Linked DNA regions of Homo sapiens. The protein of the gene in region 2 purifies or fractionates together with the protein of the main gene of each other region. This does not show direct contact. Each region holds a gene or a part of one and is shown on either strand. Other genes may lie near its edges.

What was found. Proteins that work in one complex are often made in the same cells at the same time.
Region 1: the proteins of CCDC51 (region 2) and GM2A purify together in Homo sapiens (affinity purification with mass spectrometry; 3 studies listed by BioGRID and IntAct, with this or other methods). This does not show direct contact.
Region 3: the proteins of CCDC51 (region 2) and PLBD1 purify together in Homo sapiens (affinity purification with mass spectrometry; 3 studies listed by BioGRID and IntAct, with this or other methods). This does not show direct contact.
Region 4: the proteins of CCDC51 (region 2) and PKP1 purify together in Homo sapiens (affinity purification with mass spectrometry; 3 studies listed by BioGRID and IntAct, with this or other methods). This does not show direct contact.

The regions. Positions count from the first base shown.
Region 1 is NC_000005.10:151,266,685-151,270,184, reverse strand, and holds part of GM2A (ganglioside GM2 activator isoform 1 precursor), read right to left. Parts: intron 3,455-3,500; coding exon 3,272-3,454; intron 2,890-3,271; coding exon 2,734-2,889; 3' UTR 2,694-2,733; coding exon of another isoform or gene 2,545-2,693; 3' UTR 1-2,544.
Region 2 is NC_000003.12:48,431,673-48,434,396, reverse strand, and holds the end of CCDC51 (mitochondrial potassium channel), read left to right. Parts: intron 1-420; exon of another isoform or gene 421-525; coding exon 526-690; intron 691-1,230; coding exon 1,231-1,989; 3' UTR 1,990-2,224; downstream 2,225-2,724.
Region 3 is NC_000012.12:14,506,023-14,508,883, forward strand, and holds part of PLBD1 (phospholipase B-like 1 precursor), read right to left. Parts: intron 1,097-2,861; coding exon 911-1,096; intron 247-910; coding exon 140-246; intron 1-139. UniProt on the Homo sapiens protein: In view of the small size of the putative binding pocket, it has been proposed that it may act as an amidase or a peptidase.
Region 4 is NC_000001.11:201,325,006-201,328,505, reverse strand, and holds part of PKP1 (plakophilin-1), read right to left. Parts: coding exon 3,379-3,500; intron 2,753-3,378; coding exon 2,668-2,752; intron 1-2,667. UniProt on the Homo sapiens protein: A component of desmosome cell-cell junctions which are required for positive regulation of cellular adhesion.

The sequences.
Region 1 (3,500 bases), on a different chromosome or scaffold from region 2:
TTGGCTCAGCACCATTTATTAAAGTCTGCTTTGACCTGCGATTGAAGATGCCACCTTTAACTCCTCATCCCCCACCCCTAAGAAACCTCACGGAACATATGACCCAAGAGCAGAGCAGACATAAAAAGATTAACTGAGCTACTGAGATTCGGTCAAGAATGTGAACTAAAAATGAACTGTTGAGAATAAGGCTGGAAGATCCAACAGAGGGAAACGGCTGTGGAGGTCATTGCCAGGTGAGGTGTCAGATCCCCGGCATTGGGAAGTGGTCAACTCGTGGGTTGGTAAAAAGAATTCACCAACAACAGTATAGGTTTGAAAAAGGAAAGGTATTAGAAGAATGCTGCAGAAGACTGCCATGGGGCACCTCGGTGAGAGGACTGAATGTACCACGGTGGATTTTTCCTTAGGGATATTTATGGACCTTAAAGCGGGACCGTGGGGTTGCAGTGAGTTTCAGCATGGCATTCCGGAGATGTACAGAAATTTTAGTTACTTCTAAGGTTTTTTTCGGGGAAAAGAAATCTGGAACCAGATGCCTGCTTTAGATAATAGGAAAGTCTAATTACTTTTAATTTTCCCCAAATAAGGCGTTTTGCCTCTGCATGGCCTGATAGTCACCAGGTGGTCTTTGCTCCCTTTTAAATTCCTCAGATAAAAAGATTTTGTCTCTGGGACCTGTTCAATGGTCACTAGGTGATTTTTGCTCTCCGCAGTCATGATGTGATGGAAAGCAAAATAGCAAACAAGGGAGCTGGATGGCGATGAAGCAGAGACAACAAGCAAGCTCAAGCTCCTGCAGAAGGGTCCGTCCCTGGAATCACCTCGGCTCACCTGTACCGTTCCAACAAACCCTTCCAACCAAAAGAGCCCCACCCCAAAAATGCTTTTGAAATCCTGAGATGTGATCAGTGAAATATGCAGCCAAGGCAAGGGGAAACTGTCCGCAAGTTAAAAAGATTTATTGCTATTCCAGGCTTCAAATGAGCCCAGAACTCAGGGCTGGTGTGTGTTTCAGAAGTTGTTATGATGTAACAGGGTGGTAGAAAAATCCAGGCAGTTTGATGTCGAGGCCACCCTCTCTTCCTTGGACCCCTGCTCCAAAAGCAGCTGCTGGTGAGGCTCTTTCCCATCTGCCTCATTCACCCAACAGGACTCCAAGACTGAGGCAGGCAGCCTTGTGATCCCCACAGCTCACAGGTGAGAGGCTGCTCATACCTCTCCTAGCACTGGAAGAGCCTTGTCCTTGGGACCGGACACTATGGCTTTGGCCCTGTGGAGGGAGAAACGGTGCCACAGGAGTTGTCTTAAGAGGACAAGGCATGCACGGTCTGAGATCAGAGGTTGTGACGTGGCCACCCATGAGCCAGTCCGTTTGGGACACATCACACTGCACAGCTTTTTAAAAAAATAATTAGCTGCCAATCTTTTAAAATGGTAAGATTTCATATACAAATCTGGATTTTTGGCTTCTCTAGGAGTAAACATTGAAACTTTTTTTTTGAGACAGAGTCTCACTCTGTCACCAGGCTGGAGTATTGCCAGTATCTGGCAGTTGTCTTCACAGACTGGCTATGCACTCTCCAACTGACTCCAGTCCTTGCCACCCTTAATTATATTTCCAACTGGAGACCAGGCCTCAGCAGCCTTGTATCAATGGGCACATGTGCTGTGACTTTCTGTGTAAGAAATATTTACATTGTAATAGCATCTTTAATCAAAAAGGAAAAATCGGCTGGGTGTAGTGGCTCATGCCTGTAATCCAGCGCTTTGCAAGGCCAAGGTGGACAGATCACGAGGTCAAGAGATCGAGACCATCCTGGCCAACATGGTGAAACCCCATCTCTACTAAAAATACACAAATTAGCCGGGCGTGGTGGCAGGGCCTGTAGTCCAAGCTACTTGGGAGGCTGAGGCAGGAGAATTGCTTGAACCCAGGAGGCGGAGGTTGCAGTGAGGTGAGATTGCACCACTGCACTCCAGCCTGGTGACAAAGTGAGATTCTGTCTCAAAAAAAAAAAAAGCGAAAAATCGAAATCAAGCCTGGAAGCAACATGTTTCTCACGGTTCTTATCAGTCATTTAAGTCTCTTGCTAGGCCCTGCGGGTACCTGAGTTTGTAAACAACAGAGCACTCCTAATATCTCCCCCAAGGGATTCCTCCCCCACACACCCTACCTCTCCAGGATACACTGCACCCTAGTATTAATTGGGCAAATCTAGAAAGGAAATAAAAATTAGTCACAGAAGTTAAGGGAGGAATAGACTAAGAGCAAATACTTTTGCCCCTTCATTGTAACAGGGGGCCGGAGGAGAACAAAAACGTTAATACTCTCACTTCGCTTTTAACTTAGTGACAAAAAAAAAAAAGAGTGAAAGAGAGAGAGTCATAAAGATTCTTCAGGTCCTAAAACACTCTGGTTCCCATTCCTTAACTGCTTTGGAAATGAACGAGGCTCTTTAGAGAGAATGTTAACGGGGATGAGTAACGTGGTCAGCCCAGCAGATGCCCTGGGCTATCAAGAACTGTCCAACTCATTCTCCCTTAGGTCAGGGCTGCTTGCCCCAGCCTAAAATGTAAGTGGTACAAAATGATTTTCAGTGAGGGTAGTGGACTCACTGTAGAAAGGGGATTAAAGGGGGGCAGAGAGTGGGAGTTTGGCCTTGGCAAACACAAAACAGAGGAAAAGGGACCTTCCTCACACCGCTCCATTCTGCTGTGGCAGATGCCATGTTATATGCCCTTTAGAGAGGCAGCGATCTTGATGCAGCCCAGACGCTTCCCACTGCTGCTCAGGACGCTCTCTATGCGGTAGTTCCCGGTGGTGAGCCAACTGGGCAGCTCCAGGTCAGGCACAACGAATTCGCTCTTGGGCAGTGAGTAGGTTCCCTGCGGGAAAGCCAGTGGACCGCCAGTCAGTGGGAGCCTACTGATGGGGTCTTTCTCCTAGAGCCACTGCTAGGATTGCAGCCATGAACTACCACCCCTCTTCCCATTCTCAAAACAGCCGCACAAGATGAGAGACGGCCATAGCACTGTAGAGCATGGATTATTATGGATAAAGGGCCCTGAAGATCACATCTAAGTTCAAGTCTCCCATTTCGTAGATGGATAACTGAGGCTCCCGGAAGATAAGTGATTCCTGATAGGTCACACTGGCTTACAAATCCAGAGACATGCAGATCTGCAGAAGGAGAATGCAAAGACCCTTCTCTCCAAACCCCATCTCTTTAGCCACAGGGGTAACGCTCTCTCCTCCCTAAGTACTTACTTCTTTGAAGGGACAGTGGCAAGGAAGCCCATAGGTACGCAGGGGCTCTGGGCAGGGCTCCCCAGTAGGAATTAACATGTCAAGCACATCACAGAAGTGTTCAAAGGTACAGCTGCCAATGTAGTCTGTGCATGGGATCTTGATCCAGAGGCCAGCCACCTCCTTCTCCAAAACTAAATCCACCTGGTAAAAAAAAATAAAACAAAGGTTTGAAAAAGGTTATAAGTGT
Region 2 (2,724 bases):
TGCATTCTGTCATCTCTGTTCCCACTCCTGCTTAGGCATGTAGTAGTGTAGCGTGGTGGGAAGAACCTGGGGTTCAGCTGGGACTTTGAGACAAACAGTGCCATCTCTTTCCTTGGAGATTGTGAGCTTGGCTGAGCTGGTGTTTCTGGGTTTATAAACTGGAGGCCACAGCAGTGCCTTTCATGGCATTGTTATAAGGCATAAATAAGGCAACACACGGGAAACAGCCTACCAACACAGGTTTGATGGACACAAATTGTGTGCATTGTTAGCTGTTTTCAAGTTTTTTCAGGGGCATGTTATTTCTGCTTGAATGGCTAAATCTCGTGATTCTGATGGGTGTGGCCCAAGGCTGCACTTTGAGCACCACTGGGTGAGCCAGGATTAGTGTCTAAGGAATTCCGTTTCCACCCTTTGCAGCTCACACCCCAGTGACCTCTTCTGGGAATGCCTTGCTGGGAATGCAGCTGAGCCTGTGTGGGTGTGGAGAGAAGGTGCAGATGGCCTCCGGTTTTCTCTTTGCAGGCTGAGAAAGTGTTCATGGTGGCTCGAGGGCTTGTCCGAGAGGCTCGGGAGGACTTGGAAGTTCACCAGGCCAAGCTGAAGGAGGTGAGGGACCGCTTGGACCGTGTCTCCAGGGAGGACAGTCAGTACTTGGAACTGGCTACTCTCGAGCACAGGATGCTGCAGGTAGGCACCTCAGGAGGCAGCCCTTTCGCACCTGGACAGTGACCCTAGCCTGGCAGATCATGGAGGGGCCGGGTGGGAACCCTGACTGGTCTGTAGTCAGAGGCCTGGTACAGAGGTGAGCCAGAAGCTCCTATGGATGGACAGAACCCCAAGCTTCCAGAGTCTATCCATATACTTTCTTCTGGAGTACTGGGGCCAACTCTTCAGGGCAGCGTAGCCTGGGACTCAGAATGCTGAGGAAGGAGAACTATGGAGGGGCTGGCCTAGGGAGTGCTGGACACTTCCCTTTGTGTAGACATAAGTGCACCTCTGGTCAAACCCAGAACTGCTCAGGTGGGACGATCATGCAACTCACTTTGATCACTCCCAATTCCTTTGCCCTTCTGACCCAGCCAGGTTGGTGCTACCTTCATTCATTCAGCATGGGTCTATGGAACATGTACTCTGCCAGGCACAAGGTAGTGAGCCATCTGCTGGTGGCTATAGCTGCAGGGCCACCTTGTGCCCATGTAATCCAATAACATGGCTTTGCTTCTGCAGGAGGAGAAGAGGCTTCGCACAGCCTATCTGCGTGCAGAAGACTCTGAGCGAGAGAAGTTCTCCCTCTTCTCTGCAGCTGTGCGGGAAAGTCATGAGAAGGAGCGCACAAGGGCTGAGAGGACCAAGAACTGGTCCCTCATTGGCTCAGTCCTGGGGGCCCTGATTGGTGTGGCTGGCTCCACCTATGTGAACCGTGTGCGACTACAGGAGCTGAAGGCTTTACTCCTGGAGGCGCAGAAGGGGCCTGTGAGTCTCCAAGAGGCCATTCGAGAACAGGCGTCTAGCTACTCCCGCCAGCAGAGGGACCTCCACAATCTCATGGTGGACCTGAGGGGCCTGGTACATGCTGCTGGGCCAGGGCAGGACTCTGGGTCACAGGCAGGTAGTCCCCCGACCAGAGACAGAGATGTAGATGTCCTTTCAGCTGCCTTGAAAGAGCAGCTTAGTCATTCCAGGCAAGTCCATTCATGTCTAGAAGGCTTACGAGAGCAGCTTGATGGCCTAGAAAAGACTTGTAGCCAAATGGCTGGGGTGGTTCAGCTTGTAAAGTCTGCAGCACACCCAGGCCTGGTGGAACCAGCAGACGGGGCTATGCCCAGCTTCTTGCTGGAGCAGGGGAGCATGATCTTGGCACTGTCAGACACGGAGCAGAGACTAGAAGCCCAAGTCAACAGGAACACCATCTATAGCACCCTGGTCACCTGTGTGACATTTGTGGCCACACTGCCTGTGCTCTACATGCTATTCAAAGCCAGCTAACCCCTGGCCCCTCCTCCAGAGGGTCTGAGGCAATAGCTGTGAATGTGGATTTAAGTAGAGAATCGTAGCAATGAAGCGAGCCTTTGGGGGCATGTACAACCTCAATCTGAAGGAGCAGTATCTGTGTGGCTCACCAGCAGGCATGCTTCGCTTTGTAGACAAGGTTCATTTACATTAATTATCAAAACTTTGTGCTAATGTCCAATTAAAATATCCTGAGTTTTATTATTTAAAACAATCAGACTGAGTTTTTTTCATTAAGAATCAAGATCCAAGACTTGAAGGTTGGGCCTGGAGTTGGGGTAGTCACCCCCTTTAGTTCCTCTCTCATCTCCTCTCTGTCCTCTTTTCTGAACTGTTATGGATGCACTCCTGAGGCCTAGATTTTCATTTTGGATTTCCTCCAGTTACCTGACTGTCCGGTGTCAGATGGCCTGGGAGTTCCAGTGAGTGGAACCTAGCCTGCTGCCTACTCATTTCGTGACCATGGTTGCTTCCCATCTCCTGGATCACTTTCTCTACCATGTGGGGGAGAACTTCCTGGTTCTAGTACTGGAGGAGTGATCAGAGGAGAGCAGGGAAGGGAGATTGGGAGAATGGTTGATAAATGTTGCTGGGGACATAAGTATAGGGATTGGTGGCCAGTCTGGATCCCTGGTACAGAGATTGCTTTGGGCAGCAGTGGTGTGCCACGGGGGCTGGGTGCACACCCCCACACAGCCCGGGGATATCTTC
Region 3 (2,861 bases), on a different chromosome or scaffold from region 2:
GAATCTCTGAAAAAGCTGATTCCTGGGTTGAGTTTATGGTTAGCGACATCGCTTCCTGCCATAAAAACCTGTGCAACTTTGCCTTTGGAGAGGCCTGTGTGCTGGTGGGAATTAAATTCAAAAGCCAATAGCATGTTACCTTTGTGTCATAACAACCTCCAGGACTTGGGTTAGGTGAGTTCAGGTCCTCACGGCAGCAGATGGTATTACAGGGGTCACCTCTACTGTAAGGATCCTTCTTATAATCTAGGAAACAGAAATGGGGAAGAGAGTGATTATTGGCTATTTGGAGACACACTTCTCCACAGTAAGGTTTTGAGGCCTGTTAAAGCCTAGATAATCAGAGAGTGTACTCCCACAGGCCTCCTCAGCCCAGTCTGCTTCCAGATAGAGACATCTCCCTTGGCTTGTGAGGAAGGAGTAAGTCCTTGGCCCCAGGCCCAGCCTGCCCTCAAGAACCTTACACAGTGAAAAATGGATGGGAAAGAGAACCAGATAAACGTCCATCAGCTGTTTCCAACAAAATAAATACAAATTTGACTTTGATGCTGTTCATACAAAAAAAATGAGGTATTTATGAACAATGTTTTGTTTTATTAGCTGCTGTTATCCTTGGAAGGAAACTTGTGTTTGGAGAAAAATTTTAAAGGACCCTCTATGAGTTATTTCTTCTGTGTTTTACAGATGATTTTTTTTTTTTCAATTAAAAAATGTATAGACTCTTCTCTTTCATTTTATAAAGGAGGCCAAAGCTCTATTTATTGAGTATAAAATGTACAATATTAGTTAAATACTTAAATAACTTCTTATAATTCCTTCTAGTACAGAGATGATAAACTTACATGGATTCTGTATCCATAGGGAAGAAAAGGAGTTTTGAAGAATGATTCTTGAGAAATATGCTACGTACTGTTGTATCGCATGATATATTTCATGGATGCCGTATCAGTCACTTTCCCTTGGTCACGCCGGAAAATTTTGGCTCGTGGAGCTAAATCATAAGAGTAGTCCAAGCCCAGCTTCTGAACTAACAGTGGATAGCCACTCCAGTTGTAGATTTTTTCATGGAAAGGAACATTGTAGGAGGGCCAATATCCTGATTTGGAATGGAAGGGAAGTAAGGGAGGGATTGACAGGGAAGGAGACAGAAAAGGAGAGAGAGCAAAAGAAATGTTATCCATGTTCATTTATTTTGAAAATGGGCACAGGCATTTAATTACAAAATAATGTACAGAAAATAAAGCTTTGCATGTGAACCCTGGCAGCCAAACAGCCTTTTAAATTTCCTAAATCAGCACAGCTCTAGGTTATTTCATTAGGGGAAGAAGAGCATCAGAATTCTCTGGTTTTCACCCAAAATTCTTAATCTCTAAGCCAAAAAACAACCATATTCTCTATAGAGCAAAATAAAGTATAATGCAAGGTGGTCTGGGGAGCTCATCTAAGTGGATTTAGTTACTGAAATGCCAAGAAATGGTTGTTCACAGTGTGGCCCTATAAAGGAAGATGTCAAATGGTAATCATGAAGTAGTGGAAGAACATAGCACTGGGAATAGAAAGCCTGAATTCTAGGCTCAGGGCTTAAGAATCAGGTCTTAGGCAGGCAACTTCATTTGTTTTGTTTCTGTTTCTTTTTTTTTGAAAGACGTCAATGGGGAGGGAGAGGAGAAGTCCATAATGTAAGGGGATTGGGGATGATCTTTTAGGTTACATTAGGCTTTTAATTCCTTTGACTCTAAACATTTATAAAGGCTCAGCTTCATTCAAAGCTTCATAGTGTGTGAAGGCCACATAGCCTACTAGTCACTGAGCACCAAATATGTGACACAGCTCTCTCTTGTAAAAGCAGAATTTCAGAAACATCCTGGATGACACTGGCCTGGGTTACTGCCTACAGAACAGTCAAGGAATGTCTCCACCATGCAGGGTTCTCTCCCACCTCCACATTCTCTCCTGGCCCTTTTCTGCCTTTCTCCTTTGTATTGTTGTACAGGACCTCCTCTTTAGGGGTGAGGTTACTGAGACAAAAAGAAAATGATAAGACATTCAGCCTTGCTAATTCTGAGACAGAGCCAGCATCAGAAGAACTGAGATATGGATGACATTGAAATTAAAGAAGAAAAACAGATTTGTTGCTAAAACATATCTAGGTTATATAGGCTCAGGAATTAGATTGCCTGGATTTGAAGCCTGGTTCTGCCATTATTAGGTATGTGACCTTGAACAAATTGCTTATCCCCTTTGTGCCTCAGTTTCTTCATCTTCATTAACTATTCAGCATTAAGCATCTTCATAAGCATGAGCATGAAATGCATTCAGATGGAGTGCTTACAATAGTATCTAATACTTGGTAAACATTAGATTATTATATTTCTCTTTGTGAAAACAGCTCAAATGAATAACGAAAATGTCTACTTTATACTTCACATTTCATGAAGCTTCGTGATTTAAAACAGAGCAACTTGGCCTGGTGCAGTGGCTTGTGCCTGTAATCCCAGCACTTTGGGAGGCTGAGGCAGGTGGATTGCTTGAGCTCTGAAGTTCAAGACCAGGCTGGGCAATATGGCAAGACCCTGCCTCCACTAAAAATATAAAAAAATAGCCAGGCATTGGGGTGCACACCTGTGGTCCCAGCTACTCGGGAGGCTGAGGCCCGAGAACCGCTTGAACCCGAGAGGCAAAGGTTGTAGTGAGCCGAGATCACGCAGCTGCAATCTAGCCTGGGTGACAAAGCGAGACCCTGTCTCAAAATAAATAAAGAAAATAGAGCAGCTTGTTTAATCTCACAAAAACCTGATGATGTATAAGTATTACCATCCCTTTTTTAAACAGAAGAAACAGAGTTTCAGAGAGGTCAATTG
Region 4 (3,500 bases), on a different chromosome or scaffold from region 2:
TCAAGGCGTGAGGATTTAGGCTAGTATTATTTTTTAAACAGAGCAACAATCAAAATCAGATTAGAGAAGCTGTCAATTGTTCTTCCCTCTGACCACCTCTATCTTTTCTTTTTTTAAACAATTCTGACAAGAGCTCTTGGGCAGAGAGGACATGCCCATTGTTTCTCAAACACAGGAGCAGGGGGCTCGCACTGGTAAGAAGCCGCTGTGCTAGAAGGTTCTGTTTACTTGTCTGTTCTTCACCTCCAGCCCCACTAGCCCCTGAGTGCCTGCTGGATGGAGAGTGAGTCTTATTCCTGTTATTTCTCCCAGCATACAGCAGGTGCCCAATACATGCTTCCAAGTGAATGTGGACAGCATGATTTGAATGCAGCAATAGGCCAAGGTGCCCTTGAAAAGAGGGTCCTGCTGCCAGCCCTGAGCTCTGAGAGCCAAGCCAGCCATCACCGACCTGTGGGAACAGGAGGGGAGATGGCATAGGGGATCCGAAACAGCAGCCGGTTCGAAGCCCTGCCCCTCCTGTCTTTGGGCATGTATTACATGATGCCATTTTTCTTCTGCAGATTGGCATGCTCATTCCTGTCGAGCATGGCTCATGCCCTGACTCACTGAATCAAGACAAACTCCTTGGACCCTGATTCCCTATTCAGCAAAATGGACACAAGCCATGTGGCCTGTCTCACCTGTGCTTGTGACAACTCAATGCATGATGGATGTGAAGGCCCTTTGGGAACAGACGCACCAACTAGATCATGCCCAGGATGGTTGTCAAGCATAGCTGGAAGGAGGAGTGGAGACTGAATGGGGACGCTGGTTCCCAAAGGCATGTGTAGAAGGGAATTCCCACCGAGAGCGATGTCAGTGGATTCTCTGTGTGTCTTAGGCCGGGGGTGGACTCTGTGTTTTGGGGTAAGCTGAATGCTTTGGACCACCATTACACAGCGGGAGGAAGCTCACACCAGTCCTCCTTACCTGCCTCCTCGTCTCCCTTTGTCTATCTGGCAGTTGCCATTTGCCAAGCCCATCTTCAATGCAGTGCTGTTGGAAAGGAGCTCTGGATTGTCACATGGAGAACAAGGGCCACCCTTTGCTGTGACCTTCAGATTTCCCCAATCATCTTTGGACACCGTGCGTTCATGAGTCTCCCTATTGTCCCCTGCCATGCTGGAGGAAGAGCTGGGCTTCCTTCTGCCCCACGCTGCTCAACCAATCCCCAGGCTTCCCTGTCCTCCATCCCTGTCTTTCTCCCTTCTTTGCCTACTCCCTCTCCTCCCATGACAGAGATGCTTGAGTCTCCTCTGTCTTTAAACAGATCTCTTTTTACCCACTGTTTTGCTCCTTTTTCTGCAGGCTAAATTGCAGGGAGCAGCATCTCCTCTCAGCAACTCCCCATCCATCCCCATCCACTGCCTTGCCCACTGCAGCAGGCCCCATGGGGCTCCCCTTGCTTGGCCAGCAGTGCTCCTGGACGGCTCCAGAGACTTCCGAAGCACCGGATCCAGGGCCTTTTCCAGTGTCCATCCCCTGGTCCTCTAGGTAGCCCTGGGAACTGCTGCCCTGCCTTCCTTAGAGCTTTCTCTTCTTACCAGGTCTTCAGCCCCTTCTGGCACCCTGCACAGTTCCTCTTTTCCCTGGCCTTTCCTCCTTCTTGTCCCCAGCAGATGGTCTTCATATTTCTGCCCTGTCCTTCAAGACTTTTCCATACACATGCAACCCATGGTGGTCTTGCCTGTTCTCATGGCTTCGCCTGCCTGAACAAAGCTCCACTCTGTATGGTAGCTCTGGCCCCTCTGCCAGGGCCCACACCACCTCCAGCCTGGACTCCCATCCAAGTCTTCCAAACTCAACCTCTCCAAATTGGGACCCCTCTTACTCCCACCTAAAAGCCTTCTCAGGCTCTCCTCATCTGATGTGTCTTTATGAATATAACCATAGTCTCCAAGCTAAAAGCTCCAGCCTAATCAGCCCCACTGCTCCATTTCTTCCACCTCCTGTCCTTTATGTCCATGCTTATCACTGAGGAATGGGAAAGAAGAGGCCATGTGAAGATGTCATACAACAAGACCTTATACCCTAGAGGACTCTGTACCTGGCTAGCTGGGGAGGGGTGGAGGACAGAGAGGAGGCCAAGGTCACCACAGGACAAGGACAGCAGCCTCCAGGCTTCTCAGCCCACTCTGCCTTGCTCACAGGGTGAGCTTTGGTGCTGCTTTGATCATGAAACCCTCTATTCAAAACTTTGAATGGTTCCCCAGTGCCAAAGGTACAAGTCCAAGCTCTTCAGTTTGACATTAGAAGGGTTTTGTAACCTAGCCCACACCTACTTTTCTAGCTGGAGTGAACCCCATGCCCTCAAAAGACTTGTGTGCTTTTTGTCCACTCTGTTTTTCAGTTTGCTCCTAAAGGATCCCACCCCAGGCCTCTCACACATTTCCTTGATTTCCTCTGCCCTCCATGTTCTCAGCATCCCTCGCAGATCTCAGAGCCCAGAGACTTGATCAGAACGTTCATCACATTCATTTTCACGTAGACGCTGTCTTTGTCTCTCAGACTGTCCCGAAGGGCAGGGGCGTTTCTCTAGTGCCCAGCCCAGAGCCCAGCATATGCCAGGCCCTCTGCTCATGAGCAGGAAGAACCTCAGAAGAGGATGATGTCCTGGGCTCTTACCTGTCTGAGGACACCCTGCAGTTCCTTGCTGGACCACATGTCAGACAGGAGAAGCCGGGCAGCTTCTGCGGCCTTGGGTGAGGCACTGGGCAGGTGAGAAGTGCATTTGTGAGATGAGATTCCAGGAGGTGTGAGAAGGAGCACCCTCTTCCCTCCCACCCCCACTGCCAGGGCCTGGACACAGGGGAGGCCTCAGAGGAGGCCTCAGGTGTGCAAAAGAGAGGAGCCCCATTGGGGTGTGGTGAGCCTGGTCACCCTACCCAGTGGGCACAACCCCATGCCCCTGCCCACCTAGAGCACCCCAGGACTCTCCTCAGGGGCCATGAGGTGGCAGTGCTCTTCCACTCCAGTCCCCAGCCTTGTCCGGGGAAGAGAGAGCCCCACAGAGCAGGATAAAGTCCCTATTCAGTTGGACCTGCTGCCCCATGCCTCCTGCTGGCCCTCTGAGGACCTTGTGCCCCCGAGTCCCCCAGCCAGGAAGTGTGTTGCCTCTTCCCTCCATGCAGCCCTGGGGCCTGGATGCTGGACCCTTCTCTCCACGCACTCTCGGCTTCTGGAACTTCTCCTCCATTCAAGCCTCCCCCGTCCCTGGCTCCCCCTGCCCTTGGTGCTTCCCCTACTCCATGGAGAGCTGCGGGACTGCTTCCTGCTGTGCAGGGTGAGGAGGGGCTCTGATTGGGGTGCAGCCCGTGGGAGCAACCCCCCGCCCACCTGCTTCGGCACAGGTTGATGATGTTGTTGAGCATGCTGCTGGAGAAGTACTGCTTGGCCAGTTGTGGCTGCGAGGCCATCAGGTTCCTCACAGTGTAGCAGGCCGAGGACAAGATGTCTTC